Linked DNA regions of Homo sapiens. The protein of the gene in region 3 purifies or fractionates together with the protein of the main gene of each other region. This does not show direct contact. Each region holds a gene or a part of one and is shown on either strand. Other genes may lie near its edges. The genes, in order: HAVCR2, PLCG2, SH3BP2, RNF146 and TNKS.

Evidence for each region.
Region 1: the proteins of SH3BP2 (region 3) and HAVCR2 purify together in Homo sapiens (co-immunoprecipitation; one study listed by IntAct). This does not show direct contact.
Region 2: the proteins of SH3BP2 (region 3) and PLCG2 purify together in Homo sapiens (pull-down; one study listed by IntAct). This does not show direct contact.
Region 4: the proteins of SH3BP2 (region 3) and RNF146 purify together in Homo sapiens (affinity purification with western blotting, with the first as the bait; one study listed by BioGRID). This does not show direct contact.
Region 5: the proteins of SH3BP2 (region 3) and TNKS purify together in Homo sapiens (affinity purification with western blotting, with the first as the bait; one study listed by BioGRID). This does not show direct contact.

The regions. Positions count from the first base shown.
Region 1 is NC_000005.10:157,097,658-157,103,966, forward strand, and holds part of HAVCR2 (hepatitis A virus cellular receptor 2 precursor), read right to left. Parts: intron 1,245-6,309; coding exon 1,201-1,244; intron 1-1,200. UniProt on the Homo sapiens protein: Cell surface receptor implicated in modulating innate and adaptive immune responses. Generally accepted to have an inhibiting function.
Region 2 is NC_000016.10:81,785,791-81,792,099, reverse strand, and holds part of PLCG2 (1-phosphatidylinositol 4,5-bisphosphate phosphodiesterase gamma-2), read right to left. Parts: intron 6,158-6,309; 5' UTR 6,111-6,157; coding exon 5,918-6,110; intron 1-5,917. UniProt on the Homo sapiens protein: The production of the second messenger molecules diacylglycerol (DAG) and inositol 1,4,5-trisphosphate (IP3) is mediated by activated phosphatidylinositol-specific phospholipase C enzymes. It is a crucial enzyme in transmembrane signaling.
Region 3 is NC_000004.12:2,822,395-2,828,703, reverse strand, and holds part of SH3BP2 (SH3 domain-binding protein 2), read right to left. Parts: intron 5,770-6,309; coding exon 5,667-5,769; intron 4,092-5,666; coding exon 3,974-4,091; intron 3,579-3,973; coding exon 3,508-3,578; intron 1,475-3,507; coding exon 1,386-1,474; intron 1,099-1,385; coding exon 1,030-1,098; intron 1-1,029. UniProt on the Homo sapiens protein: Binds differentially to the SH3 domains of certain proteins of signal transduction pathways. Binds to phosphatidylinositols; linking the hemopoietic tyrosine kinase fes to the cytoplasmic membrane in a phosphorylation dependent mechanism.
Region 4 is NC_000006.12:127,281,151-127,286,558, reverse strand, and holds part of RNF146 (E3 ubiquitin-protein ligase RNF146), read right to left. Parts: exon of another isoform or gene 1,211-5,408; intron 510-1,210; exon of another isoform or gene 382-509; intron 1-381. UniProt on the Homo sapiens protein: E3 ubiquitin-protein ligase that specifically binds poly-ADP-ribosylated (PARsylated) proteins and mediates their ubiquitination and subsequent degradation. May regulate many important biological processes, such as cell survival and DNA damage response.
Region 5 is NC_000008.11:9,704,777-9,711,085, reverse strand, and holds part of TNKS (poly [ADP-ribose] polymerase tankyrase-1), read right to left. Parts: intron 4,900-6,309; coding exon 4,833-4,899; intron 4,276-4,832; coding exon 4,089-4,275; intron 2,716-4,088; coding exon 2,594-2,715; intron 1,132-2,593; coding exon 1,040-1,131; intron 945-1,039; coding exon 866-944; intron 1-865.

The DNA.
Region 1 (6,309 bases), on a different chromosome or scaffold from region 3:
GGCGCGACCTCAGCTCACTGCAACCTCCACCTCCTGGATTCAAGCGATTCTCCTGTCTCAGCCTCCTGAGTAGCTGAGACTACACAGGCACACACCACCATACCTGGCTAATTTTTTGTATTTTTAGTAGAGATGGGGTTTCACCATGTTGACCAGGCTGGTCTCAAACCCCTGACAGGTGATCCACCCTACTTAGCCTCCCAAAGTGCTGGGATTACAGACGTGAGTCACTGCGCCCAGCCAGTTTTTCTTTTATTCTGAGAAGGTAGCAGGGACAGTAAAATTGAGGTTTATTAAGGTATGGCTTTATTTATAGTTAAATACATAAAACTGGCTGGGCACCATGGCTCATGCCTGTAATCCCAGCACTTTGGGAGGCCAAGTTGGGCGGATCACCTGAGGTCAGGAGTTCAAGACCAGCCTGACCAACATGGAGAAACCCTGTCTCTACTAAAAATACAAAATTAGGCCAGGTGCCATGGCTCACGCCTGCAATCTCAGCACTTTGGGAGGCCGAGGCAGGTGGATCACCTGAGGTCAGGAGTTCAAGATCAGCCTGGCCAATGTGGTGAAACTCCGTCTCTACTAAAAATAAAAAAATTAGCCGGGTGTGGTGGCTCATGCCTGTAATCCCAGCTACTCGGAAGGCTGAGGCAGGAGAATCGCTTGAACCCGGGAGGCGGAGGTTGAGGTGAGCCAGGATCACACCCTTGCACTCCAGCCTGGGCAACAAGAGCGAAATTCTGTCTAAAAAAAAAAAAAAAAAACCTCTTCACTTTGAATATTCCTGACTGGTGTCTTGCCATATTTAAAGAGATAAATTTAAATACTCTTTCCCATTAGGATTGCAATGGAAGCAAGAAGAATGGTATTCTAGGGAGATGAAGAATCTTTGAACCTTCCACAGGGTAGACAGTTGTGAAATTGAAGAATAAGAGGGACAAAATGCTAATGTTTCTTCTTTGTGGTTTTCAAGCTCTTACTATATGCCAGGCACTTTACACACATCATGTCAGTCCTTCATTACAGCAGGCCTATGAGGTTAGAACTGTCATCATCAACATGTTACAGCCCAGGAATCTGAAGCTAAGGGAACTTAAGGCTTTTTACCCCAAGGACAAGGTGGGCATGAAGGAAGTCTAAAGCCATGATTTCCCCTCCAAGTTGAGTACAACATAGCTCACAAAAAAAGTTACTTACTGTTAGATTTATATCAGGGAGGCTCCCCAGTGTCTGTGTCTCTGCTATAAAAAGAGAGAGAGAGAGAGAGAGAGGAAAAATAGCCAATAGTATAGTTAAGAACGTTTTCTTTTATCTAAGTTTTTAAAAAATCTTAATGATGCCTATAATCCTATTTGAAATGAATTCTACTCCGTACTTGTCACAATAATTAATGGAGAGACAGACAAAATTTACTGAACACCCAGGAATCAACTTTAGGATGGCCACATTTTTTCATCTAGATAATGAACCGTACTGTTTTATGAAATAGAGACTTCTGCCAGGAAGTCCTACATTAAATATGTGCTTTGTTTTTTTCACAGGACCCTAATGAGTTCTACAAACATCTAGCAATATTGATAAGACTCAGGCATTATTTATTTATTTATTTATTTAGACACAGAATTTCACTCTGTCACCCAGGCTGGAGTGCAGTGGCATAATCTCAGCTCACCGCAACCTCGGCCTCCCTGGTTCAAGCAATTCTCATCCCTCATCCTCCCAAGTAGCTGGGACTACATGCATGCACCACCACGCCCAGCTAATTTTTGTATTTTTAGTAGAGACGAGGCCATGTTGACCAGGCTGGTTGTGAACTCCTGACCTCAGGTGATCTGCCCACCTCAGCCTCCCAAAATGCTGGGATTACAGGTGTGAACGACCAGGCTTGGCCTCAGGCATTATATTCTAATTAGATTTTAAAAGACAACAAAAATTCATTTCCTTCTTTTTTGTTTTTTTGAGACAGTCTCACTCTGTTGCCCAGGCTGGAGTGCAGTGGCACAATCTCAACTCACTGCAACCTCCATGTTCTTTTTCTTTTTTTTCTTTTTGCGAGACAGAATCTCACTCTATCACCCAGGCTGGAGTGCAGTAGCATGATCTCTGCTCACTGCAACCTCCATCTCCTGAGTTCAAGCGATTCTCCTGCCTCAGCCTCCCTGGTAGCTGGGACTACAGGGGCACACCACCACACACAGCTAATTTTTGTATTTTTAGTAGAGACGGGGTTTCGCCATGTTGGCCAGGCTAGTCTCGAACTCCTGACCTCAAGTGATCCACCCGCCTCGGCCTCCCAAAGTGCTGGGATTACAGGCGTGAGCCACCGTGCCGTGCCCAGCCTCCATTTTCTTAAATAAGTTTTGCATTTACTCATGAGAAGGGAGACAGGGTTGCCAACAAATGAAAATAATCACTGTGGTCACAATGTAATAGGAGCCAGGCCTTGTGCTAAATAAACTCTTTCAGTGAAGAAGCTCATTTTAGAGATACTTAGAAGCACTTACTTTAGAACTACGCTTCTAAAGTAGAGACTGTTAGTCCCATTGCACAGATGAAGAAACTGAAAATTAGGGAAGTGAAGTGACTAACCCAAGGTCACATGACTTAGCAAATGACAAAATGGCCTTCCAATTTAGGTCTGCATAGCCTTAAATGCACATTCTTAATTATACTGCCTTCACCAGCCCTTACCTCAGTGCTGTCATTATGAAGAGGGTCACGTTGCCCAGCCACCCACTCACCATCTTTCCTTCCTGTTCATTTGTTTATTTCTTCATCTGCTGATCCATTCCATGAATATGCACTATGCCCTTACTCTAGGCACAGGGGACAGAGCAGGAAACAAGAGGGGCACAGGCCCTGACCTCATGAACACTGAATTCTAAAAATAAGTACATTGCCAGCTTTTGGAAAACTAAGCATGCTTACTCATTTTTATGGCTGAGTCAGAGATGTTGAAACTTCTTAAATGTCACTGTCACCTTCTGGAAGCCTTAATGTGTATAAAGGGTTTGACTAAATGCTGGTTTAGCAAACTATAGTTTAAATATTATAAAGGCATAGCCTCAGCCTAAAATTATTGAAGAAAAAAAGATTATGTTCCAATTACTTTTGCCCTAATTACCAGAAAAAAATTTAAAATATAAAAACCACAGGCCTGGTGCAGTGGCTCACACCTGTAATCCCAGCACTTTGGGAGGCCGAGGGCAGGCAGATCACGAGGTCAGGAGATCGAGACCATCCTGGCCAATATGGTGAAACCCCATCTCTACTAAAATACAAAAAATTAGCCGGGCGTGGTGGTGTACGCCTGTAGTCCCAGCTACTCAGGAGGCTGAGGCAGTGGAATCGCTTGAACCCAGGAGGTGGAGGTTGCAGTGAGCCGAGATCACACCATTGCACTCCAGCCTGGTGACAGAGCAAGACTCCATATCAAAAAAATAAAAAAAAGACCCTCATCAGTACAACTGCTAAGTAAACATGAATCTTAAGTGCACATAAGATTTTAAATGTAAATCCAGTTTCAGACTCCTTATAATTATTTTTCTTGATAAAAATGGTAAAACTAACTTTTTAAAAACTTCATTTTGCTATGAAAATGATCAGTAAAATCAAGCACTGTTGTGTCATTACAGCTTTTTTTCACACAGATTTGGCCACCAACCAAGATGGATGGGACAGTTGAAGGGAGTGGCAATGTTCTTTCTGGAGAAACCAAGATTTGCCTGGTGGGGCAGGTAGCAGCGGAGGTGAGATGTGATGGCCTTAACAGTGTATAAATTTAGTAGTTACCATCTATTTGGTACTTATTAGGTGCCAGACATGGTGCTTAGCACCATATACATACAATCTCATTTAATCCTCAACCACAATAAGTAGGTACTACTATTTTCCCCATTTTTCAGATGAAGATACTGAGTCTGAGAGAGCCACTTTGCCCAAGATCACACAGCTATTAATTGGGAAAGCTAGGATTTAAAGCAGATCTACTCTAGAGCTGAGGACTCACCTGTGACCCAGTCCTTACTCCTTCAGGTAGAAGACAAGTTGCATTTGTTCTGTGTTCAAATTCCAGGCCCTTGGATCTCTTACTTTTAAAGGCTCTACTCCATTTTTTTTTTTTTTTTTTCTGAGAAAGGGTCTCGCTCTGTTGCCCAGGTTTGGAGTACAGTGGCACCAACTCGGCTCAGTGAATCCTCAACCTCCTGAGTTCAAGCAATCTTCCTGCCTCAGCCCTGCCAAGTAGCTGGGACTACAGGCACATGCCACCATGCCCGGCTATTTTTTTTTTTTTTTTTTTTTTTGGGATGGAATCTCGCTCTGTTTTCCAGGCTTCAGGACAGTGGTGAGATCTCGGTTCACTCCTCCCAGGCTCAGACAATTCTCCTGCCTCAGCCTCCTGAGTAGCTGGAATTATAGGCATGCACCACCATGACCAGCTAATTTTTGTATTTTTAGTAGAGACAGGGGTTTCACCATCTTGGCCAGGCTGGCTTAAACTCCTGACCTCAGGTGATCCATCTGCCTTGGCCTCCCAAAGTGCTGGGATTACAGGTGTGAGCCACTGCACTCAGCCTAATTTTTTGTATTCTTAGTAGAGATGGGGTTTTGCCATGTTGCCCAGGCTGGTCTTGAACTCCTGAGCTCCAGTGATCTGCCTGCCTTGGCCTCCCATAGTGCTGGGATTACACATGTGAGCCACTGTGCCCAGCCCCATTTTTATATTAAATGCTCCCACATCCCACATTTAGAGTTGGTTTGCCAGCAGCCAATTTACATAATGTTACATATTATAGACAAACCATTAAATATTCATTCATTTCAATTTTTTATTTTATTTTCCTATTTAGGAGCTACTGACCTATTTTTGGTTGTTTCAATATTTTTTCTCAGTCAGGCCCTTGAGAAGCTCAGAGGTTCGAGGTATTATTCCTATATTCCCATTTTTGTTGCCCTAGAGGGAAGGAACTAACAAACAAAAACTAAAGGGAAGGCTGGGCGTGGTGGCTTACACCTGTAATCCCAGCGCTTTGGGAGGCCGAGGCAGAGGGATCACCTGAGGTTAGGAGTTCGAGACCAGCATGGCCACCATGGTGAAACCCCGTCTCTAATAAAAATACAAAAATTAGCGGGGCGTGGTGGCGCGCGTCTGTAATCCCAGCTACTTGGGAGGCTGAGGCAGGAGAATGGCATGAACCTGGGAGGCAGAGTTTGCAGTGAGCCAAGATCGTGTCATTGCACTCCAGCCTGGGTGAGAGAGTGAGACTCCGTCTCAAAAAAAAAAAAAAAGGAAAGAAAAACTAAAGGAAAGAAGACTTCTGTCTGTGGTAGAGACAAGTATAAGGAAATGCACCACCTCGACAGGGAGTGAACTCCGTCTACAGCAAATGCCCATTCAGTGGTGATGTAGTAAAAAGTACTGGCCGGGCGCGGTGGCTCACGCGTGTAATCCCAGCACTTTGGGAGGCCGAGGCGGGAGGATCACAAGGTCAGGAGATGGAGACCATCCTGGCTAACACGGTGAAACTCTGTCTCTACTAAAAATACAAAAAAGAAAAAAATTAGCTGGGCTTGATGGTGGGCGCCTGTAGTCCCAGCTACTTGGGAGGCTGAGGCAGGAGAATGGCGTGAACCCAGGAGGCGGAACTTGCAGTGAGCCGAGATTGCGCCACTGCACTCTAGTCTGGGTGACAGAGCAAGACTCCGTCTCAATTAAAAAAAAAAAAAAAAGTACTGAAGCACAGGATGGGAAAGTGAGACTAAATGACCCTTGAAGTCCCTTCTAGCACTATGGTTGTAAGATTCTTTAAAATATAACAATGGCATACAATAAGTATCTGGTATAACTTTATTATTTTCTGTCCCCACCATATTTAGTTTCCTCTCTAATTGCATAAAAGATGTTGGCTACCAATCACTAAAGACTAACCAAAGACTGAAACTTTGGAGAGCTAAAACCAGTAACTATAGTAATAATAAACAGTTGAGTGCTTTTTATGGGCCAGGTACTATGCTGAGCATTTTACATACATTATCATGTTTATACATTACAACCACCTCATGACATGGGCACTGGAATTATCCTCATTGTAGAGATGAGCAAACTGAGCTTCAGAGAATTTGAGCAACTTGACTGAGGTCACAGAGCTATCAAGAACAGCTGAAATTAGAACCCATTCCACCTGTCACTGAAGTACTTTAACCACAATCTCACTGTGCCTCCTGATCTTATAATATTAACGACAACAGCTAACATGTACAAATTGTGGTCAGACATTGGGATAAACGTTTTAGACATTTTCTTAT
Region 2 (6,309 bases), on a different chromosome or scaffold from region 3:
GAGCTTGGCTGCTGGTGGCCACCATCAGTTCCTGCCTACCATCGATATGCATGCCATTCCTTCTCTAAGAGAGAAATTTCCTTTCCTTGAAGCTGAGCTGGGCTTGCTGATCTGAGTTGGTGCAAGTGATGTCCTCGGATTTATGAGGCTGTCGTAAGAAGCCTGTAGCTTCTGCCTGGGACTCTTCTGCCTGAGACCACCACATGGTAGATGTTTGGTCAACAGTCCCAGCTAAGGCTGGGTGCAGTGGTTCATGCCTGTAATCCCAGCACTTTGGGAGGCCAGGGTGGGCAGATCACGAGAGGTCAGGAGCTCAAGACCAGCCTGGCCAACATGGTGAAAGCCCATCTCTACTAAAAATACAAAAATTAGCTGCATGTGATGGTACCCACCTGTAATCCCAGCTACTCGGGGGGCTGAGGTGGGAGAATAGCTTGAACCCAGGAGGCAAAGGTTGCAGTGAGCCGAGGCTGCACCATTGCACTCCAGCCTGGGTGACAGAGATTCCGTCTGAAAAACAAACAAACAAAAAATAATCCCAGCTAAGCTCAGTCTTCCAGCCATCACCACTAAGGTATCAGATGTGTGAGTGAAGATTCTGGAACCTTCCAGGCGAGGTGACACCAAATGACCTCAGTCCAGGCTACAAAGAGTAGAAGAATTGCCCAGCTGAGCTCTGCCCAGATCTATGACCCACAAATCTGCTTGTTTATATTACATGACACCCATTAATCCCACAGGATCAGGGCAGCCATCCCTGCTAACCATCTAGCAAATCTCTCTAAACTCCACCCAAGCAGCTCCTCCACAATGAGCCCTCCCCATTCCTCACCACCTCCCCCACATCCAAATGGACAAAAACCTTCCCTCCTCACACCACATCCAGTGAAAACTCCTGCTATGGTACTAAGCACACAATCTTGCAAGGGCAAGTTTGAGTCTGTCTCCCCCTCTTGCAAGCTGGGACTCCATCCTCCTCCTCCCTCTCTCTGCAGAGTTTAGCACTCAATATGATGGCAAACATGTGCTGAACAAATGAGAAAATTCCATCCAAACAGGGTTCAGAGCAAAACCCTATTTTACCCAGTGACATTTTATTGCTGTGAGCAAAGCAAACACATGACTCTAGAGCAGTTTCTCAACCCCTGCACCACTGACACGTTTGCTGGATCACTCTCTGTGGTGCGGACTGTCCTGTGCACTACAGAACATTTAACAGCCTCTCTGGCCTCTACACACTAGATGCCAGTAGCACCCTGTATCCCAGGTGAGAAAATCAACACGTCTCCAGACTTTGCCAAATGCCCCCTACCCTGGAGTAGGGAGGGAGAGGCAAAAATCACCCTGGTTGAGAACCACACGCTGCTTTAGACAGTAGGACCTAGGTATTTTACCCAGGTCTGCACAGGGATTGTAACACCTGTCCAAAAGTCACACACCATTTGCCAACTATTCCAAAACCAGGTGCCGGTGCTCCTCTCATGTGCACCTGCCCCTGCAGACCCCACAGTAACCAGCAAGTTCCTGCTAACCAGAACCCCGTGAGGAAATTGCCAGAGCTGGGAGTTCTTCTTGAGATAAAACGTCACCCTTCTCAGCAGGAGACTGAGCGGTGACACTGACAGTCCCCACCCAGGGCCTGAAGGCCTGCTCTCTCAAGGTGTGAGGGAGAAGCACCATTTCTAAGCTCTTCACACATAATTGGCTTTCCCTGTCACTTTACCAACACCATCATTGCAAACAGGACCTCCACTGCATGCTCAAAGATGCAAATCCAATCACGTCATCCCTCTTCTGAAAACCTGAGAATGGACCCTACTCCCCTCCAGTCCAAACCCCTAAGGAAGACTACATAGGCTGGACTCCACTAGTTAGCAACAACAGCAAACATCCTGAAAGTGGTGGTTCCCAACAACTGAGTGCCTGTCACACACTATGAATTCAGCCGAGCCTCTCCAATGCATCTTCTCATTTGCTTCTTCCCAACCATGAGCCTGTGGGGTAGACACCAATGTTATTTCCAGTCCACAGATAAGGGAATTAAAGTTCAGAGAGTGGAGGTAACTTGCCCAAGATCACACAGCAAAGCTCATCCAAGGGCACTGGAAGTCAAGCCCCAGACTGCTCATACCTAATAAAGCAATATAGGCTCCACGGAGATTTGAATCCAATTTAATAACTGCTGTATCTCTAGCGCCTAGGGCGGCGCCTACAGTGGGCATCCAAATGACAGAGGGGAGGCAATGGAGGGGGGGCAAAGGTGGGAAGGGAAGGAGAAAGAAAGGGAAAGTGGGAGGGAGAAGAGGAGGGAGAGGAGGGGGAAGGTGGAGGAAGGGCAGTGTCTCTCCAGTGGCATATGTGTGAAACCTGCCTAGTTACCAGACCATCCGGGGGACTTATTATAATAATACGCCCCAGCCAAAGTGGTGAAATATCATCATTCTTGGTCTCTCCAGGGAGAAAGAAGAAGGAAATAAAGAGGCTGAACAGATAAATAAAAGAATGAATTGAGGCCGGGCATGGTAGTTCCTGTCTGTAATCCCAGCACTTTCGGAGACCAAGGTGGGAGGATCACTTGAGGCCAGGAGTTGGAGACCAGCCTCGGCAACATAGCAAGACCCTATCTACACAAAAGTTAAAAAATCAGCCAGGCATGGTGGCACTCACCTGTAGTCTCAGCTACTTGGGAGACTGGGCAGGAGGATCACTTGAGCCCAGGAGTTCACAACTATAGTGAACCATGATCAGGCCATTGCTCTCTAGCCTGGGCAACAGAGCAAGACCCTGTCTCTAAAACAGAGAGCGAGAGAGCGCATCCGCGTAAGCGAGTGAAATGGTATTACTCAGCAGAAGGGGAGAATGACAGGGCATAGATTTCAAGCCAAAATCCTGTCTCATGCCCATCACAATGAGCTTCAGAAGAAGGTTCTAATACCCTGTAATTTCTTTTTTGTATATATTTATTTTATTTTATTTTACTTTAAGTTCCGGGATACATGTGAAGAGCATGCAGGTTTGTTACACAGGTGTATACACATGCCATGGTTAATACCCTATACTTACAAGATCCCCCCTGGGTGTTTCTGATGGGCAGCTAGGTTTGGGATGGGCAGGTTGAGAAGAGAAAGGAACAACCTGCAGTCCAGTCTCAACGTGGCCCATCTGTATTTACCATCAGTGCCAACCCTCTCACCCCTTGTGGGGGAAGGGAGGGTGGCCACCCCAGCTGCAACAGGTTTCTGGGCCACCTGGGGGTGGAGCCGGCCAATGCAAACAGTCAAGAGGGAAGATGGCCACCTCCACATGGGCAGTTCCAAAGCAGGGCTCTGGCTCTGTGCCACAAGAGACCCACTGGGCTCCAAAACCAGGAAAAGCCTTTCAGAAAGCAGTTTGATCACACTCATGATAGGATACATCAAATTAAGGATGACACCAAGCTACCAAAGTCTACCTGTGGATGGCCAAGTTCAGCAGCCACGCAGCATAGATGAGGGTTCAGGCAACAGGTACTTTTACATCCTGTGGCTGAAACAGACAGTGGGGGCAACCTCTTTTGTGGGGTGCTGCCAAACTTCCCTTTAAAGTTAAAATATGCCATACCCCCATCCTGCCTAACACAGTGAGACCCCGTCTCTACTAAAAATACAAAAAATTAGCCGGGCGTGGTGGCGGGCGCCTGTAGTCCCAGCTACTCGGGAGGCTGAGGCAGGAGAATGGCATGAATCCGGGAGGCGGAGCTTGCAGTGAGCTGACATTGTACTACTGCACTCCAGCCTGGGCAACAGAGCGAGACTCTGTCTATTAAAATATATATATGCCATATCCTTCAGCTCAGAAATAAACCTTCAGGAAGCTGTCCTTCAGATATACCCATATATACAAATGAAGAATAATGCAACGATCACCCTTTTCTACCACTGGAAGGAATATAAATGGTGCAGCCACTTTAGAAAACAGTCTGACAGTTCCTAAAATGATGAAACTGAGTTAGTGTATGACCCAGCAATTCCACTCCTAGGTATATACCCAAAACAAATAAAAACAGACATCCACACAAAAACTTGTAGAGAAACATTCTTAGCAGCACTATTTATATTAGCCAAAAGGTGGCAACAACCCAAGGGTCCGTCAACAGATGACTGAATAAACTGTGGAATACCCATACAACGTATCGTGATTCTGCCACAAAAAGGAAAATTTCTGATCCACGCAACAAAGTGGATGAACCTTGAAAAATGCTGAGTCAAAGAAGCCAGTCACAAAAGCCCACATACATAGGATCCATTTCTATGAAATGTCCAGAATAGAGAGGTTTATAGAAACAGAATTAAATTTAACGGTTGCTTACGTCTGGTAGGGGGGATGAGGGGATGGGGTGATGGTGAAAGGTATGGGGTTTCATCTTGAGGTGATATAAAGGTTCTACTTTTGATTGGAGTGGTGCTTGCACATTTATATAAATATACTAAAACCACCACACTATACATGCTGCATACAATGGGTGAATTCTATGTATACTATGTGAATTATGTCTCAATCAATCTATTATAAAAAAAAAAAAAAAGAGTGCAAGGCTGGGTGAGGTGGCTCATGCCTGTAATCCCAATGCTTTGGGAGGCCAAGGAGGGAGGATCACTTGAGCACAGGAATTGGAGACAAGCCTGGACATAGTGAGATCCCATCTCTACAAAAAAAAAAAAAAAAAATTAAATTATCCAGGCATGGCGGTGCATTCCCATGGTCCCAGCTACTTGGGAGACTGAGGCAGGAAGATCACTTGAGCCCAGGGGGCTGAGGCTGCAGTGAGCCATGATCATGCCATTGCACTCCAGCCTGGGTAAAAGAAAGAGACCTTGTCTCAAAAAAATTAATTTTGTTTTAAAAAAAAAAGAGTACAATGATAGTCACTTCGAATAATAACAAAAGCCTGGAAATAGCATGAAATGCCCTTCTCTGGAGTTAAACTGTTACATTGAGGCCTGTGCCATTACATGTCATGTGTCCAAGAAAGAATGAGATCAATGTGTGCTGATAAGAAACCACCGCCAACATCATTATTAATTAACAAAAAGAAGTCAAGGTGCAGAAGTGTACAAGAGTTCCCAATTGTTTTCTTTTTAAACCCACACATTATGCAAGCATAGACTATTTTGGAAGATAAAAGTAACTGGTAATGAGCTTGCCTCAGTAGGATGGTTTAGGGAGGAGAAATATTTGAGTTGACTCCTTAACCCCCAGGAATATATATTTCAATTAAAAACTAGTTAATTTAAAAACACAAATTAGAGCAAATATTTGCAACTGAAAATTGCTTAAGTGCCTTTACTCTATTTGTTAAAAACAGTCTTAGAAACTTTAGGATCTGAACCAGCTGCCCAATCAAACGGAGGTAGGGGAGGAGGGACACCTCTACCAAGACCAGACCTGCATTTGAAAGCTACAAAACGTTCAACAACTCACTCTCCCTGCTTGGAGACTAAAGCAAAGGCCCCTCACTGCTATGGTATGCAGTAAAACAAGGTAGCATTTGGCGACCAAGCTATGAGTTTCTGCAGGCTTGGGCTAATTCGCCCTTAAGAGGAAAGATGACTCGACCAGTTGTGGGAACCAGACGATCCCTGATGCTGTCAGACAGGGCACAGAACCACCAGGCAAGGAGAGCTGCCTGAATGCCATTTCCATGTTGGCTGACCTCAGCTTCAGTTCTTTCACCAGAGTTTTCCCAGCTGAACTTCCTCCACCTGGTGTAAACCTCATCAGAGATCCACACAAACTGGCAATGCTTTCATTTTAAGACGAATAAAAGAACACATCAAACCAACAACAATCACAGTAATGACAAGACAGGAAGGTGGACAGGTGCTCAGGCCAGGGCCCCAGAGGACGGGCCACACTGCCCCACCCAGCGAGTACTCACAGAAGCCCTCGATCTTGTCAGCGGTCTTGCTCCAGGCCACCTGCCGCGTCTCCATGATCACCTGGACGGTTCTCCGCTCGGGGGTGGACTTGCGGAAGCTGAACACAGTCATCACCGTCCCCAGCTCCAGGGCTCTCTTGATCTGGCTCTTCTCATATTCCGCAAGGGAATCTACATTGACCGTGGTGGACATTGTCGGCCGCTCCAGGGAGAAGGAAGGAATCGGGAGAAATCAGGAAGCTGAAAGGGCAGAATTAAAGAGTGAACTGATTTTAGTACTGAAAGGGGTTTAGTTAACAGGGCATGAACTTCAGGAACCAAAATCCTGTCTCATGTCAATCAGGATGAGTTTTAGGAGAAGGTTCTAGTGGCAAGGCATCGCTGGCCACTCA
Region 3 (6,309 bases):
TAGCATGCAGGAGCACTGGTGGCTCCCCAGGCCCATCTCTAGCCTCACTGGGCTGCAGCTCAGGGCTGGGCAGACGGAGTCTGAGTTCACCAAGGCTTGGCCAGCCAGGCTAAGACGGAAGGCAGTAGTGTGTGGGCGAAGGGACAGGCATGGTGAACACTGTGAGACAAGAGCTCTGCATGGAAGGAAACTGAGGCAAGCGGCCCGCAGACCCTCGTGGGCTGAAGGACTGTTGGCACTGGGACCCCAGAGGGAAGGAGGGAGGGAGCGGCAGGAGAAGAGGGGCTGGACCCGGGAGCCTGAAGGTGGGAGTGGATGGGAGGCAGAGAGGATACGGGGTCAGGGGCTGGGGTCGGCAGAGGCCAAGTCAGTGAGAACAGGAGGCTGGAAAACAAGGAGGCAGGGCGGACGCAGGGAAAATGGAAGGATCAAGGATCAGCCCCAGACATGAGGAAATTGACAAGATGAGGGGGCTGGAGAGACAATAGGGAGGGAGGAAGGGAGGGAGGCGACAGAGGAGGACAGAGACACGTCCTCCCCACCCAGCTCGTGCTTCCGTCATCCACGTGTGACCACCTGTATCAGCCTGTCTCTTTGACTAGGCCATGTGCTGCAGGAGGTAGGTGGACACTGGGATGGGATGGGGTGGGGTGGGACAACGACCTGGCCTGCAGCAGTGTCCACACAAGCTGGCAGCCATGGGGACATGGACCTGCCCTGAGCCTGCGCGCTCCTCAGCGTCCTTCCTTCCCCATGCTTAACCCCCAGGGCCACCCCGGCTCCACCTGCCACTTATCGCCATGTGCCTGTCCCTCCTCCTGGGAGGTGGGAGGAGGAAATGAGCAGAGGTGGCAGCAGCTACACCTCTTCTGCTCCAATCCTCATAATACTTGGGACACAGCAGGGAAGCGGAAGCCACCCAGAGCGGTACCTGGGCCAGCATCCCCAGCCTCGGAGGGGCTCTGCTCCCGGTCCCAGCCCCTGCTTCCTACACACCCAGAGCTCCCCGGGCCCACCCGCCCCACCTACCCTCAAGCCTTCCGGGCTCCGGGGAGTCAGGCTCCAGGTAGGAGTCATCCTCATCGTCGTGCTCATAGTCTGCATGGGGAGAGGGGGGTGGTGAGAGCCAAACCGGCCCAGGCCCAGTCTCCGAGCAATGCTCCATGCATGGGGCTGAGTCCAGGAGGCAAGGGGCAAGCACCTGCTGGGAGGACTGTGAGTCCAGACCCTGCCGCTGAAGGCCAGAGCCCAGGGATGCTACTGCGCACTGCCAAAGGGCCAGAGCAAGGAGCACAGCCGAACACACCTCCCTCTCCTCCACAGCGGCCAAGAGGAGGCCAGGTGGGGAGAGGCAAACGGGCAGTGGATGCGGAGAAAGACCTCACCTTCATTGTCCGTGGGGTACGGGGAAAGGCTGATATCCACAGGCCGCTCAACTGCGCCGTAGAAGCTGTCTGTGTCCGAGCTGGAGTCGCTGCAATGCAGGGTGCGTTGGGGCGGACGGTGAGCACCAGGCCTGGGAGGTCCCTTGATGCTCACACAAAGGTACACACAGGCACACGCGGATACATGGACAGATACACAGATGCACACACGGATACACTGACAAACACATGCACACATGGTTAAGCTGACAGACACACACATGCACACACGGATACGCTGACAGACACACACATGCACACATGGATACGCTGACAGACACACACATGCACACATACTCTGACAAACACACAAATGCACACGTGCACACACAAGCACACGCAGGAACACAGGCACACAGGCATGGATATATATACACAAAGACACAGGGACACGCGCAGACATGTAGACACACAGACACAAGGACTCTGTCACACAGACATGGAAGTATACAGATAAACACAGATACAGGACAAGCACACATGTTCACACACAGACGAGCGACACACGGACACGCACACACAAACACAAGCAACACGCGGACATGCACACACACAGAGCAACATGCGGACATGCACACACACACAGAGCAACATGAGGACATGCACACACACAGAGCAACACGTGGACATGCACACACACACAGAGCAACACGCAGACATGCACACACAAACACAGAGCAACACACAGACATGCACACACACACAGAGCAACATGCAGACATGCACACACACACACACAGAGCAACACGCGGACATGCACACACACACAGAGCAACACGCAGACATGCACACACAAACAGCAACACGCGGACATGCACACACACAGAGCAACACGCGGACATGCACACACAAACACAGAGCAACACGTGGACATGCACACACACAGAGCAACACGCGGACATGCACACACAAACACAGAGCAACACGCAGACATGCACACACAAACACAGAGCAACACGTGGACATTGCACACACACACACAGAGCAACACGCGGACATGCACACACACAGAGCAACACGCGGACATGCACACACACGGAGCAACACGCGGACATGCACACACAGTTACAAGGACAGACAGAAGAACTGGAGGCTGTGGTGCCTCCACTAGGTGCCCCTTCTGGCCCACAAGGATGGCCGCCCTGACTGTGCCCACGTCTCCACCTGCTCCTGCCTCAAGAGGGCTTGGGCGACTCTGGGCTGGGCCCGAGGCTGAACAGCTTGGACCAGGGGACGGGAGCCCGGAGTCAGGCAGGGACCTGCAGGGCAGCCTTGGCTGTGCCCAGCCCTCCCTGGGCCTCCTGTCCCCACCTGTGAAAGGACAGGAAGGTTTGTTCCCTCCACATCGTCTCGGGCCAGGAAGTCCCAATCCAGAGAGTATCTGCTGCACGTCGGGCCAGCTCACGGGGGAGGCTGCCAAGGCTCAGACTGCCCAGTGGCGCCCCGCCAGGAGAATCATTCTGGTCTCACTCTGAGTGAGCCAGGGTGGGCGTAGGGGGCTGGGAACCCAAAGTGCCCAGCTGCTGCCATGCCAGGCCTCCCTGGTGGCAGGCGTATAAACACACATGATCCCCTAACAGGAACTACCCATGGCGGCAACACAGAAACAGATGTGACAGATGGGGCTGGAGGTAGACAGGAGCAGAGAGATGCATGCACACCTGTGCATGCTCTGTGTGTGTGTGCATGTCTGTGTGTTGCTCTGTGTTTGTGTGTGCATGTCTGCGTGTTGCTGTGTGTGTGTGCATGTCCACGTGTTGCTGTGTGTGTGTGCATGTCCACGTGTTGCTCTGTGTGTGTGCGCATGTCCACGTGTTGCTCTGTGTGTGTGCATGTCCGCGTGTTGCTTGTGTTTGTGTGTGCGTGTCCGCGTGTCGCTCGTCTGTGTGTGAACATCTGTGCTTGTCCTGTATCTGTGTTTATCTGTAGACAGGAGCAGAGAGACGCAGCCCAGCTGGCACCTCCAGGAAACCTTTAAGGACGGAATTCTATGCCAAGCCCGGGGCTGGGAGGCGGACACCCGGGTCAGGCCCAGGCGCCCCAGGGACCCTCACTGCCCGGTATGCCCTGGGCCCGGGCTCACCTGGTGTCCAAGGGCAGGTCTTTCTTTTCGTGGAAGTGGCCAATCTCCCTGCGCAGCAAGGCCATCCAGCTCTGCAGGTCAGCGGGGCTGTGGTGGGCACGGTGCCACCAGGGTGGGCCCCACCGCACCCCTCCACCTTCACTGCCCTGCCTGCTCTGCTGTGACTCCCAAGGTCAGAGGAGGCGACCCGGCTGGATACAACATGGCTGTGTGGCTCCCCTCAGCCCACAGGGGCACCTCCCAGGACAGCATGTTCCTTGTGTGGGCGCTGGCACCAGGCTCTGGGCATGGGGATGGAGCTGGGGCAGCACCCACCCAGCTGCCTGTGTCCCAGCCACACCTTCTCTTTGCCCGGGGCTGAGAGGCCAGCGCCCCAGGACCAGCGAGCCCCCAAGGCAGGTCCAGCCTGGTGCCTGCAGGCCCACACCCCCAGTCACCTTGCACTCGTCCTCGGACCCCCAGTCACCTTGCGCTCCTCCTCGGAGGAGGCCGAGAAGAACCACGTGCGGTGCTTCTTGCTGATATGGATGATCTTGAAGGGGAAAACGTTGTTGGACGTGGTCTCCTCAGCCGCCCGCATCACCCTGGGGGCACAGCGCCAGGGGTCACGGCCTGGTTCACAGCTATAGGGATGGCCTTCCCACAGCACCCCCCTGTGAACACGTCTCGGCACCAGCACCACGCCCCAACGGAAGAGGGCAGATCGGGTGGGCCCTGGCTGCTGATGCTCCCAGTAGTGAGCTTCATGCCCAGGCAGGCGTAAGGGGGCATGGAGGGGCATGGAAGAGGGGTGCTGGGTGGGCTTCGTGGGAGCAGCAGTGCACAGGAGACAAGGACAAACCTGCCTCGATGCCCGCCAATGCCACTTTACATGGACGCCACCCTCCCACCTCTGGCCCCATTTGCCCAGGCCTGCTTGGCCTCCCTGGGGTACCCCACAGGGCTCCGTGCCCCTGAGGCCCAGCAGCAGCCCTGAGTGCATTTCAGGGAATGACTCGTGCCTGCTCTGCGGCCCACTCACACAGCCAGGATGTGGGGTTTGCGCTGAGTTTATCACGTGGGGAGCCCTGCCAGCCAGGCACCGGGGCAGGTGCACTTATACGGCCCATAAGAGCCTGGCCAAAACTCCTCAGGCCCAGCATTCCCTGATGGGCTAGACAATTCCCTGGGGCATGATTGCATCTGCCACTGGGCCCAGGGTTCATGGCATGGCTGGCACATGCTGGAGGCCGGAAGGCGCTGTGTCTGTCTGCAGAAAGGGAACGACCTTCCCCAGGGGACCCCGGAGCTCTGTGCCAGCATGGGGGCCTGGCACCAGGCTGGGTGCTCTGGCAAGGCTGCCCTACCAGGCCTGTGGCCAGGGTGCAGGCCGGGGCCTAGAGTCACTCCAAAGGTCCCAGTTCCACTACTGATACCATGTGACCCTTGGTTCCTCATAGGCAGGAGGGGCTGGGCCCTTAAGGGGTGGTAAGAGGCATAGATAAATGCTGTGGGGTGCAGGGCTCCGATGGGATAGCAACCAGAACCAGAGCTGGGTGCCAGCATTAACCCTTTGTGTGGGCCCCAGGCCATGGGCTGTGCCAGTGCACTCCCCCACCCACATGCCACCTGGCCACCGCCCACCTGCCTGTTAGTGCAGAAGGCCCTCCAGGGCAGCTCATGGCCCATCACTGGATAGAGCCCAGCCCAGGACATGCGTGAAGCTGGAAACTGATCCCGGCCTGGGAGGACCCTGGAGCAGGGAATCCTAGGGCCCAGCCTCTGTTTGGGACAGGGCCTGGGCTGGCTGGGGTCTGGGCTGCCTGGAAAGAGGTCATGGTGGGTGAAGGGGCAAGGTGGGGAGGGAGGAGAGATGCAGAAGTCACTGGGTGGTGGCCGAGTGGAGACTCTGGAGAGCAGGCTGTCCAGGCCTCTGGGACTTGTGCACAAAGCCACAGGAAGACCCTGGCACCCCCAAGGTCCTGCGCCTGAGGGCAGGACACGCGGAGAGGGCGAGGCACTGTGGAGGCTGGGCGGGGAGGACAGGGGATGGGCACGAAGGCTGCTTCGGGAAAGCACTTTCCTTGGGCGGGAATAAGGGGCAGGCCCAGCTGGGGCTCTGCTGGGAGGGACCCGCTGGCTGTGGGGGCCCGAGGTCAGCAGGCAGGTCGGGCACTTACCGGTTATAGCCACTCAGGGAGAAGGCGCCCTGCGGGGAGGCAGAGGTGCTACTCTTGAAGTAGTAGACGCAGCGTTTGTGGATGATGACAAAGCGCAGGGGCCCTGTGGGAGGTGGCAAGGGCAGGAAGGTGAGCCTGGAGGGGCAGCTGCCAAGACCCACTGTGAGGACCCTCCACAGGACAACTTGGGGCCAGGCCTCCTGCCTCTAAGCCTTACCAAATGGAAGAGCAGGGAGCAAGGCTGGCATGCTGCCCCCTCCCCAGGAGCCCACTCTGGGGCCAAATACGGAAAAAATTGTAGGCACACTGGCTAGCCCCAGAGTGCCACCCGAGGGCAGGCCTGGCTGCCCACAAAGAAGAGGTAGATTTGGGGGGCTGTGTGGAGCCAGCATGAGGCAAGGCAGAGCCAGGACCAGAGGCCCAGGGAGGCCACAGCTGACTTGCTGGGTGCTGCAGGGCTGTTGGAGGCTCCCACTACCCCAGAGCTAAAAGAGGGGGACTAAGGCCGGGTGCAGTGGCTCACGCCTGCGATCCCAGCTACTCAGGAGGCTGAAGCAGGAGAATTGCTTGAACCCGGGAGTCAGAGGTTGCAGTGAGCCAAGATCGTGCTACTGCACTCCAGCCTGGGTGACAAGAGTGAGAC
Region 4 (5,408 bases), on a different chromosome or scaffold from region 3:
TTAACAATTATGAAAACACTAACCACCTATGATGTGCATTATATGCAAGCCACATACTAGACAATGGGGATATGAAGATGAAAGTAGAGGAAAAACTCTCCAACCGATGAAAATTTTTTGTAAGCATCTACTTGTACATACCTTGGGAATGTATAAAAATTCCATCAGTGCACTTAACAGATCAGCCCTGGAGAAACACACTGAAGAACTATATAATGAAAAGCTGCATCCAGTGAGGGGAAAAGGATACCTTGAATCATGGCAGCTATTATACAGTGAAATGAATGCTAGACAAGAAATCTAAAAATCTGAGTTTTAGAGTCCTTTATTAATTATGTGCTCTTAGGCACTCAGTTAAACCATTAGTCTAAATTTCCTTACCTGCAAATCAGAGTTTACAAAGCTCAGGTAAAAATGGACAAAAAAAGTGCTTTGTAATCACTAAAGCTTCATAAAGGTAACAATCATATAAGACCAAAGGAGAAAATAACATGAATATTGAAGATCCCCTGAAGAGGAAGAAGAAAAAAGATTTGTCAAATTGGATGTATCTAGCTTAAACACTGACATAAAATTTATAATTTCTGCCTTATTGATTCAGATAAACATTTACTAAACACCTGCCATGTTCCAGATACAATACTAAGTACTGATGGGTCTAAAGATAAATAAGACACACAACTACTCTGTTAAATAAGGAAACATACATGCAGATAATTACAATATGGCCTGATTCCTGCGTAATCAAAATGTGTTAACATACTTACTAAAATAACAGTAAGAGAGAGATGAGAGGATGGACATAGGTTAGAAAGTTTAGTGTTCATTCAGAGGGGCTGGGCAGTGGAGCAGATTCCAGGCAGAAGCACATGCAAGACACTGAGTCAAATAGTCATACAAGCAATGGAAGAGCAGGAGATGAAGGTGTAAAGGTAATCAAAAGTTAAGTCATGAAAGCCTTATTGTGTTATTGTGCCCTGCCAAGGAAACATCTAATTTTTTTCCCCATGGTAAAAAAAAAAAAAAAAAGACATTTTAAAAGGGGAGAAAATAATGGAGTAAACCACTGATAAGTAAAAAAGACTGAGAAATAAAGATGAAGATGTCAGAGATTGAAAGCTTAAAATGAATGACAATCTCTCTGCCAGCTAATTCTGCCATTCTAAATGGGTCAGTAGTTACAAAAGATATAGTCAACAAGAATGCTTACGCTCATCAAAAATTGAAAAACAATAATCCTAGGCTATCATCACAGCACATTCAATCTTCAAACAATCCTTTTTTTTCTTTTTACTGCCTTTTCTGTGTTCTTGGTTCCTCAATAGACAAGGCTCAAAAAGATGGCAATTTTCTAGTAAAGGAAGCAACACAGTAAGTTTTTAAAAAGATGGCACATATCTAGTAAAGGAACCAACACAGTCTCAATGGAAGAACTGATCACTAAAATGTTTAATTTCCAAATTATTTTCAACTTTTAATAACATTTCCAATCAATTCCTTTACCAGAAATTCTAGGTTATAGACATCAAGAAAGTACAACTTTCTCCTAACCTATGGAAAGTTCTAAGTCAGGGGTGTCTAATCTTTTGGTTTCCCTGGGCCACACTGGAAGAAAAAGAATTGTCTTGGGCCACACATAAAATGCATTAACACTAATGATAGCTGATAAGCTAAAAAAAAAAATCACATAATGTTTTAAGAAAGCTTATGAATTTGTGTTAGGCCGCTTTCAAAGCCATCCTGGGCCACATGTGGCCCACAAGTTGGATAAGCTTGTTCTAAGTAAACCCTAATAGGACGTCTTAGTATGTTAAGCACTATAAAAGCTTTCAAATATTTTGAGATAAACACTTGCCTTCAAAGATCTTGTAACTTGAAACAACAATAAGTTACAAAAGAAGGCATATGTTTTTAAAATAGCCAATTACACATTCCCTGCCTATTTCCTCCCCTAAAAGAATTGGCTGTGCACACATTTTGTTAGGTTTTCAGAAACTTTCATCCCTTTCGATTTAGGTCAAAAAAGTTAGTTTCCATAAAATTCCTGAAAATCTTTTTGTTCCAAGTTCCATATTTATTTAAAGCTCCAATTAAGAAAAAGAAAACAAGAAAGTGATCCATTTACAAGTAATAATTTAAGAAAGATTCTACTCATGATTCTATTCATGAGACTAAATAGAAAAATGGGCTGATGACCACCATTACTTTGGAAAAACAACAGCAACATCTTCATATAAGAAGTCTACATCTTAAACCATCTAAGTACCTTATGAACAAAGGACAGGATCATAAACTGAAAACATAAATAAAAACAGAGTCTGGTAAAATGAAAACAAGACACCCAACATGTCACGTGGACCAATGCCATGCTTTTAAATACATAATTCCAAACCTATTGTATTTGCTTTAAGTAAAATGGGCCCAAGAAGTCAGTTTTCCATCACATACAGCTCGTTTATCTACAGAAAAAAAAGTTTCCAACCTAAAAACATTATCCTCCACCCTACTTAATATGATTAATATTTTGCATGACTCTTACTCTTGCATTTATGAATAAACCAAAACACATAATTTCAAAACTAAGAAAGCAATTACAATCATCCCAGGAGAAGGCATGAATTATAATAACATAATTGGAAAGGCAAAACAATCCTGTTTGTGCAGGTATTTTGGTTCCATCATCAGAATGAAGTGAAGTTGGACAAAGTTAATCTGCAAACAATGGACACCAGACAGCTAAATGGTCATTATTTCATCTGAAGCACTCTTAACTATCAATTTGCCATAGCAATTTATAAATTCTGATTCTGTTTAGCCCATCAAGTATACTGTTAGTCTATCACCAACTAACAAATGGGCAGAAAAACTTAGTGATATTTCTTATTTAATTCTGAATGAGGCACATGCAATAAGTAAGATAGAGATAAAATGTGTAACAAGATAGACACAAAGTAACCCCAAACTGCTAGTCTACCTATAAGACATACTTCAAGGCTTTTTAAAAAACCATTTTAATCTACCCTACACAGTCTCTGTTTTGCAGTTCCAATGATCTTAAAATAGGTGGGAGACTAAATGTATGCAGATGATCATACCAATATGTAAATAAGAAAGCTTTTCCCCTCCCTTTGTGTAGAGCAAGTATTAATGCTAATCAAAAGAGGTATTCCCTATCTCATAAATGTCTCAGAAAATTCTAATTTTGAAAAAGGGAATTTATTTCCAGTTTACTAAACTAAGAATTTAATACACAGAAATTTGGAGTGACGTTAGTCCAATTCTATTAATAAGTATAATACATCATTTACTTTCAAAGACGTTTTTACTGAATTCTTCATGTGATATTCCAACTTTTAAGTATAAATCCCCTTCTTCCAATAGATAAACCATGTGAAATATTTCTGCCAGACTAATAAGAGTCTATTAATACTAAGTCTTCTTCTCAAGAAGACAAAATATAGAGGGGTATGGGCAGAGTTAGTGGAAATCTCCAAGAACTCAGATTTCCTTGAAACTTCTTGGACAACTAGTCAAATGAAAGGCAAAATTATTATAAGCAAAAAAGATCTTTAGTATGTGTAGTATTCAAGAAATTTTTAGCTTGCAATAAAAACTCCAAATATTAAAAATCAGATTTTTAAAGTCTGAATTTAGAATCCAATTACAGACACACAAAAAGGGAACAATCCTACATATAATTTCAAGGGGCTTAAGGATTTCTATGAAGCTGGTCCACATATGAACCACTAATGAGACAAGAGGAGTTCACTGAAAGGTTTTACGTCAGGAAATAACAGCCAGTTTAGTAGCTTCCAGACCATTTGAACAGCAGGTTGGAGGAAAGTTTGGTAATGCAGGAGGAGGTATGGCGAAAGGGAAACTAGAATATCCAGGTAGTAATGCAAGTATAAGATAATTAGAGGGAGGTTGCTGATGTAAGTTTCCAACAATAGAATAGAAGAATGCTAAGGAAAAAGAAATGAAAGCATTTGATTACTGATGGATGGTGACACATTCACCAAAATTCAGAATTTGAGGAGAGTTCTGTCTCAGACATAATGACTTTATTAAGGTCTCCAGGTGGAGATAGGTAGATGACAGCTGAATTTACTAGTTTGATACTCCAAGAATAAATCTGAGCTGAAAAAAGTCTGGTGACTCACCAACACATACATGGTCCTTGGAGCCATGAAAATGAGTAAATGCCCAAATTAAACCTGTAGAGAGAGCAGTCAAAAGGGCCAACCACAGAATCTTGAATTACTCCAATATCTGTGAGGTAAAATAGCCAGGAAGGGGTGTAAGGAATGGTCAGAGAAGAACAGGAAATAAAGATAGACCACCACCACAAAAGCCAACAAGGGAGACATTCGCAAAAAAGAATAATCAAGCAAGTTACTCTAAGTGACAAAAATTTCACCATACAATTCACTTTTGTGTGGTGCAAAAGTTGTGAACCCCACACACTTAATAGCTATTTTGATTTCCTAAACACCATCAATCCCAGTAAACTTTTACTCGGCCAAGACATCTTTCTTTCCCTATTCCCCAGAGACTATCATAAAACTTCTCCCTCCTAGTTTATCGATATACTAACACCTGTATCACTGAGAAATTAGGTAAGTCAAAAATAAATCCTGAAAATCTATCTTTACCTTTACTGTCTTATCATTATTCCTCCTGGCTCAATATGGGGTACTGCTACTTGTTTACAAAGCTAACCCCTCAACATCTAGTAAGTACTGTCCCCTAACTCCTCCAAGACTGATCAATATACTCTGTCCCTAAGTATCAAAATCAATTAAGATTGATTGTATGTTAAATAAATGTAAAATCTGGTAATATAGTAAGTACTAAATAAATGTTCACTCCCTGCACTTATTTTGAAGTCTCTTTCTCCTACCCTGCCTTCCCACATATTACTGTTCCCTGACTCCTCTAAAATGTGTTGATGATTAGGCAGCTGTTTCCCTCCTCATTCCCTTGGCTTGAAAAATATTTCCTAATTTTCTTTGACTGTTAAAATTCTACTCATTCTTTGAAGGCAAGGTGAAACTTATTCTGTTCATTCTGAACCCTTCAGATGAAATTAATCTCTTCCTCTGTTCAGTTTCAATAGCATCTGATTGTTACCTTAATATGGCATCTATTCCACTGTTTGTTAATTACATACATGTCTCATTTACTGGATCACAGTAAGTTCCTTGATGACCAGCACCTAGACTATCTGACCTATTAAGATTTTAAAAAATGTATACAGATAGATAAATGGACAGGATTAAATAAAATATATATTTTTAAAGACAAATGCTTATTAGTATCATTTTTCAATTATCAAATTTTCAATACTGAATAAAAATAATATGGTCATACTTTTAATAATAAATTAATTATTGTTAATACATATC
Region 5 (6,309 bases), on a different chromosome or scaffold from region 3:
AAAAAATCTATAATTTCAAGTCACCTCTAAAAAACAACCAGTTTGCTTCTTTCCTCTCTTAAGTGCTTGACAAAGTTTCAGACTACACCATTCAGAAAATGCCAGTAAAAATTATTAAATATGTCATATTTCTTTAGTGTAGAGGTTGAGAAAATTATTACAAATCTGAAGGCATACAATTTTTTTTTTTGAGACAGATTCTCACTCTGTCTCCCAGGCTGGAGTGTAGTGGCGCAATCTCAGCTCACTGCAAGCTTCGCCTCCCAGGTTCATGCCATTCTCCTGCCTCAGCCTCCTGGGTAGCTGGGACTACAGGCACCCGCCACCACGCCCGGCTAATTTTTTGTATTTTTAGTAGAGACGGGGTTTCACCGTCTTAGCCAGGATGGTCTCCATCTCCTGACCTCGTGATCCACCTGCCTCGGCCTCCCAAAGTGCTGGGATTACAGGCGTGAGCCACTGTGCCTGGCCACAAATGTTTTTTAGAATAAGTAGAGCTATTCTGATGCTATCATTTAACATAATTTATTTTCTGATAAACTGTTATTCAAGTGGACACTATCAAAATATATCCGTATAGTATTAACTGAAAGTAATGTAAAGATGAAATCTATTTCAAATGACTATAGCTATATTTTGTTGCTTTACAGAAGGGTGACATTAAAGGATCAAGAAACACGGGTAATTATTTTTATTAGAAACAAGATCTAAATCAGCTTTATAGGAGAATCCATGAATTTAAGTACGAACTAATAGTCCTTTATAAAATTAGTTTCTTCAGAAAAATCGGAGAGAGAGAAGCAGTGTTAAGAGCAGCTGGCTGCTCAGTGCTGAGTCTGGCACTCTGCTCAGGTGTGTGCCTCACCTTGGCGCCATGCTTATGCAGAACTTCCATGACATCATTATGGGCTCTTTCGGCTGCAACATGCAGGGGAGTCATGAAACTACAGAAAAGAGGAAAGAAAGAAAAGGTAATTGTCTCTCTTTTATTGCATTTCCTCTTTAGGAACTGAACAACTCCTTCTGCAATTATACTTACTCTTTATTTTTTTCATTAACATTTGCTCCTTTTCTAAGTAACAATTCTGTCACTTGTTTACGTTTGGGATGCAGAGAGGCCACAGCACAGTGCTATAAAGTAAACAAAACCAAGTTAATAAAATACACTTCCATATGTACAGTAGCTCTTGGAATTGAACAGTATCTGCTGACCATTTAAAACATTGTTATCTCAGAGTATCAGAACATATGTATATGTTTTATATCACAGAGATGATCCATATTCTTTCTACGTATAGTGGAAATACAAAACGTAAGCGTTTAAACCAAGGTGAAATTATGCTCTTAAACATTAAGAGAGATCTTATTTCTTTTGGCTTAGCCAATCAATAAATATTCACTATATATTCCATGGAGAGCATCATAATACGTATGCCTCTGCAACGCTACAGAAATCTATAACTAAGTTACTCAATCTTTCATTAGGCCATCAGCCACACAAGTCAGTATTTCTAAGCTCTTCTACAGAGGTACTCCCAGCACTACAGGAGACGTTTATATGCCCAAGGATAAGCAAGAAAATGATAGAACTGAAGCAGTTTAGAGAAAAATATTCTCAGAAATTTTAGGTTTTAACATAATATTTATACAACTTTTTTATTCTGCTTCATTTTAATATTCGTATTAAAATTTAAAAATAAAAAACTACTTTCAACTAAATAAAATGAAAACTCCAAAAAAGTGGGTCAGGTTTATTCTGTGGCTATGAATATCTCCTAGCATAACACCGTGTAGCTTGAATCTATCTCAACCCTAGTTTGAGAGACATGTATTTAAGTGTACATATAGTTAGCCTATTTCAGTTTGGTCAATCCTTTAATGTTGTTTTATGCAGATACTGACAAACGTTTGATCTTTTGTGTCAAATATACGTAAGAATATTAATTAGGTATATTTAAGGTCTGTGATGCAGGCATCACATATGCTTAAATTCTGAATTTAGGAGCGATCACTAACCACTCTCTAGCTGAGCCTTAATGTGTCAATGACAAAGAAAATAAATAAATCTTTCCGAAAGTGCATTTGAAGAAAAAAACGTGGATAGTTTTAAGAATAATTTGTATAGTATCAAACAAAAAATTCATGATCTTGCCATTTTTCTACCATGAATATAATCAGTTCTTTGAATACAATTGCTCAAAAAGATAATGCAAATATCTAAAAATATACTTTAATCTTCTACAGAAGGAAATCTAGTATTTATCTAGCAAACATAAGAAAAAAAAATTCTATTGAAAAATCATATCTTGTAGTTTATGAAAGCACTGGCCACAAAAGTGGATTTGTTATAATGAGGTGGGGAAGACAAAGGTAAAATAATTTCCAAATTGAGGTTGAGCAAATGTCAATTCTCTCACCCATGAAAAGAATCACCCCCCAAACTAAGTTTAAAAATCAATGCAACCAAAATTAACATGCAAATTCCTGGCATTTCAGATACTAAAGTTACTTTAAGGTTTCTGAAATGAAAATCATATTTTGTGCTTACGTTATTATTATAGACACAGGGAATAGATTAACAATAAAATCTTACCAGTGCTGTTTCATGAGACTGCGGTTGTTTGAAATTAATGATTTCCAGAGCGAGTGTTTTTTTAACTTTAGCTAAGTCTGCTTCTCTGGCTGCTTGTAGTAAAGAATGACCTTTAAATTCATCTGTCAATGAAACAATGGTTGACATAAAAAAAGATGTAAAAATGTATAAAAATCTTCAGCATGATTATAAATAAGTAGGAATATTATTATTTTATGAATTTCTCTATTTTAACAACAGCAGCAATGTGATAATATGATGATAAAAATGCAAAAGATGAGGATGTAGATTAATGTGAAGTATGTATGCTCTGAAATAAGACTGTTTCACACTCTCAGAGTCATAAAGATACACCTATAAAGATACTTATTGCAGCAAAATTTTGAAACAGGAAACCTAAATGTCCACCAAAAGGAAACCAGTTAAATAATTTGTGTGCACATATGCTGTAACACTTTCTAGCTCTTAAACAAGAGATAGGTCTACATACACTGACATGAAAGTATACAGTGGTACATGAAAATTCAAAAAAGAAAGGACAGGCTGATGCATTATTTTTGGTATTGTCACTACTCTTGCTACTACTATTGCCACCATAAGTACACCATAAGTAATGGTATAGAAAACATTTACAGAAATATTTACCAAAATATCAATGGTGATTAGGTCTTGACACAGAAAAGGAAAGGACTAAAATATGGGAGAAATGCAGAGCTTGAAAATTTTTCAAAGAACAATTAATAGCTTATTATTTTCATAACCAGGTGAGAGATTTTTTGAAAAGCTGTATCTAAATTAATTGCATGAATGAGAATCCAATATTTTTATATCTTTAACTATGCTGAAACAAAAAGTTTATTTAAAAAACATTTGCATGTATATATTGGTAATATATTCAGAAGATGACCTCAACCTAATTATTTTTAAAATCTCACTTAAATATGGGAAAGTGATTATACTTGGGTCATAACACACATGACAAATAAAAATATGATTGTGCAGCCTTGCAGGGCTCGGGAAATGGGGAGGGCTCAATAATGCTAGATACCTGTCACTGTCAATGGCACAAGAACGTAAGCCCATAAGAGGTTTCAATAATGCTAGATACCTATCACTGTCAATAGCACAAGAATGTAAGCCCCAGAAGCTCAGAGCTTTTTAATGGTTTGTACACTGCTATATTTCTAGTGCCTGCCACATTGCAAGTATCCAAGAAATGGATGCTGATTGACTCATCCTCATTAGCCTTCAAAAAACCAAAAAAGGAGCTTCAACATACGAATTAAAACTAGGCTCGAATAAATACAATATATACAAAAAGTGTCTGTATATAACATTCCCATGGAATTCATGAAGAAAAGTATACAATTAGAAATGAGGATTATGAATTAGTCTGCTTGTAAGAATGGAAGGTTATTATTTAAGGTAGATAAAACTCAACAGAAATTAAATATTCCAATTTATGCGATAATGATTTCGGGATATAAATACGTACAAGTCAATCTCTCCCTAAGCTCCGGAGTTGGAGCCATATCCACAGCACTTTTGCCATGGCAGTTGACTAATGTAGGATCAGCGCCATGGCTAAGTAACAAAGAGCAGACTTCTACACGGTTCTTGGAAGCAGCCTCGTGCAGTGGAGTAAACTGCCAGAGATCCATGGCATTAACACAAGCTCCATGCTGAATTGAGAAAAAAAACATTTTAGGTCAGTAATCATTTTGCTGGATCAAATAAAACTCAAAAGACATTTATTTCTTTGTAAATTTCAGTTATAACTTGTTCAAATAAGTGTTTTAATTTCTTCAATATCACCTTTCAAAAACAGCTGAAATTAAATTCAATGTTTTAAAAATTTTAAGGCAATGGTAATATGTTTAAAAACGTATTTTATTCTCTTAAAATCTAAAAAAACAAGACTGGGCAACATGGCAAAACCTCGTCTCTACAAAAAACATAAAAATTAGCTGTGCGTGGTGGCACACCCCTGTAATCCCAGCTACTGGGGAGGCTGAGGGGGAGGATCACTTGAACTTGGGAGGTTGAGGCTGCAGTGAGCTGTGAATGTGCCACTGCACTCCAGCCTGGGTGACAGGGCAAGACCCTGTCTCAAAACAAACAAACAAAAAACCCCAAAGAACTAAACAAACTTTCATGAGGCCGAAAGTATGGAAAGTCATGACAAGGTAAAGAAAAAAAAAAAAAGTAAATGATGCTCAATATTCTGAATTTCTCTTACCTTTAGTAGCAGTTCTGTGACTTCATAATGTCCATATGAACATGCATTATGAAGAGGCACAAGTCCACTAAATGAAAAGAGGCAAATTAAAATACTTAAATTTCAAACAACTTATTTATCCATGTCGTACTAAGAAATAAAATCCAATAAATCCCAATACAATTATTTTAAAATATTTAAAAGTATTTAATAAAATAATAAAAGAATTCAAAGCATAGCTTATGTTCACACCTTTTGTATTTATCTTGTTTTTTGTATATAATCCTTGAAGATAATGAAAAAAATACCAAATAGAAGAACATTTTGGCGAAAGGAAGATCATATGCTAATTGACAAATGCATGCATTATATATTAAGTATTTACAAGAAATAAATGTTAATTGGTAGTGAACTGAAATATTCCACCATTTTAATTCACTTTAATGGTAATTTCTAGCAAAATAATCAAATATCCAAACTATTATAACTTGCATATCAAAGTATTCTAAATAAACCAAAAAAACCCTTTTTTTGTGGTGTACATCTCTTGATGACTCACCTATTGTACACCCATCTGTTTTCAGACATGCACAAGGAAATAGAGATGTACAAGAGCATCAGGCATTTATGCCCCTATACTACTGGGACACCATTCACATATGGCACAAAACCTGGTGCAGGCAAGAGAACAGCACCAGAAAAAGCAGATTGGAAATGGAAGAATTCTTCTGGTAAGTGTCTCAAGCATTGAGTTCATTTTTATGTTTCTTGACTTGGGGAGGGACAAAGTGAAAGAAACTCTCCTCTAGGGCATCTCTTCTTTATGCTGTCAGTCACAAGACTGTAACATAATCTACCTTACCTGGGTAGTAGGGTTAATTATCTTTCAGATCTTAAAGTGGGGCAATGAGAAATGTTAGTCCACCACATAGGACAGCAAACCCAATGATCGTATATCTCTGGAGACTTTACAGGAAACTGATACAAAGTTTTCAAAAATGACCTACTGGTAAAATAAATGACATAACTGCTTTTTTAGTTACCACCCATATCCCCTCACATCAACCTTCTAGGTTTTCTCAGTTTAGATGTCCAAGATTTCACCAGAAAAAAAATTTGGTATTGTATACTTATGATTTTGGTTTATCAATAAAGGATGATCCTTTACTATCTGTTGAATCTGATAGCTATGCTACTGGATTTTCATAATTTTCAATTTGTTTTATTTTTCTAAAATGCAATTTAAGAGTTGAAAAACCCTAACTGCAACTGAGACACAATTTCAACTTCAAGTAACAGAACGGTGATAAAATTAAATTGATTTGGGAAATTATTATGAGAAGTATCCTTAATTAAGTAGGTACATGAAAATAAAGCCTCAAACCAGAGTTATGAACATTCTTAAAACGTTATGTAAGCCGTAACAAATGGGACATATGACTTTGTCTAGTGTTTTAAAAGTTTAGAGTATCAGACAAAAAACAAAGCACTGACAGGA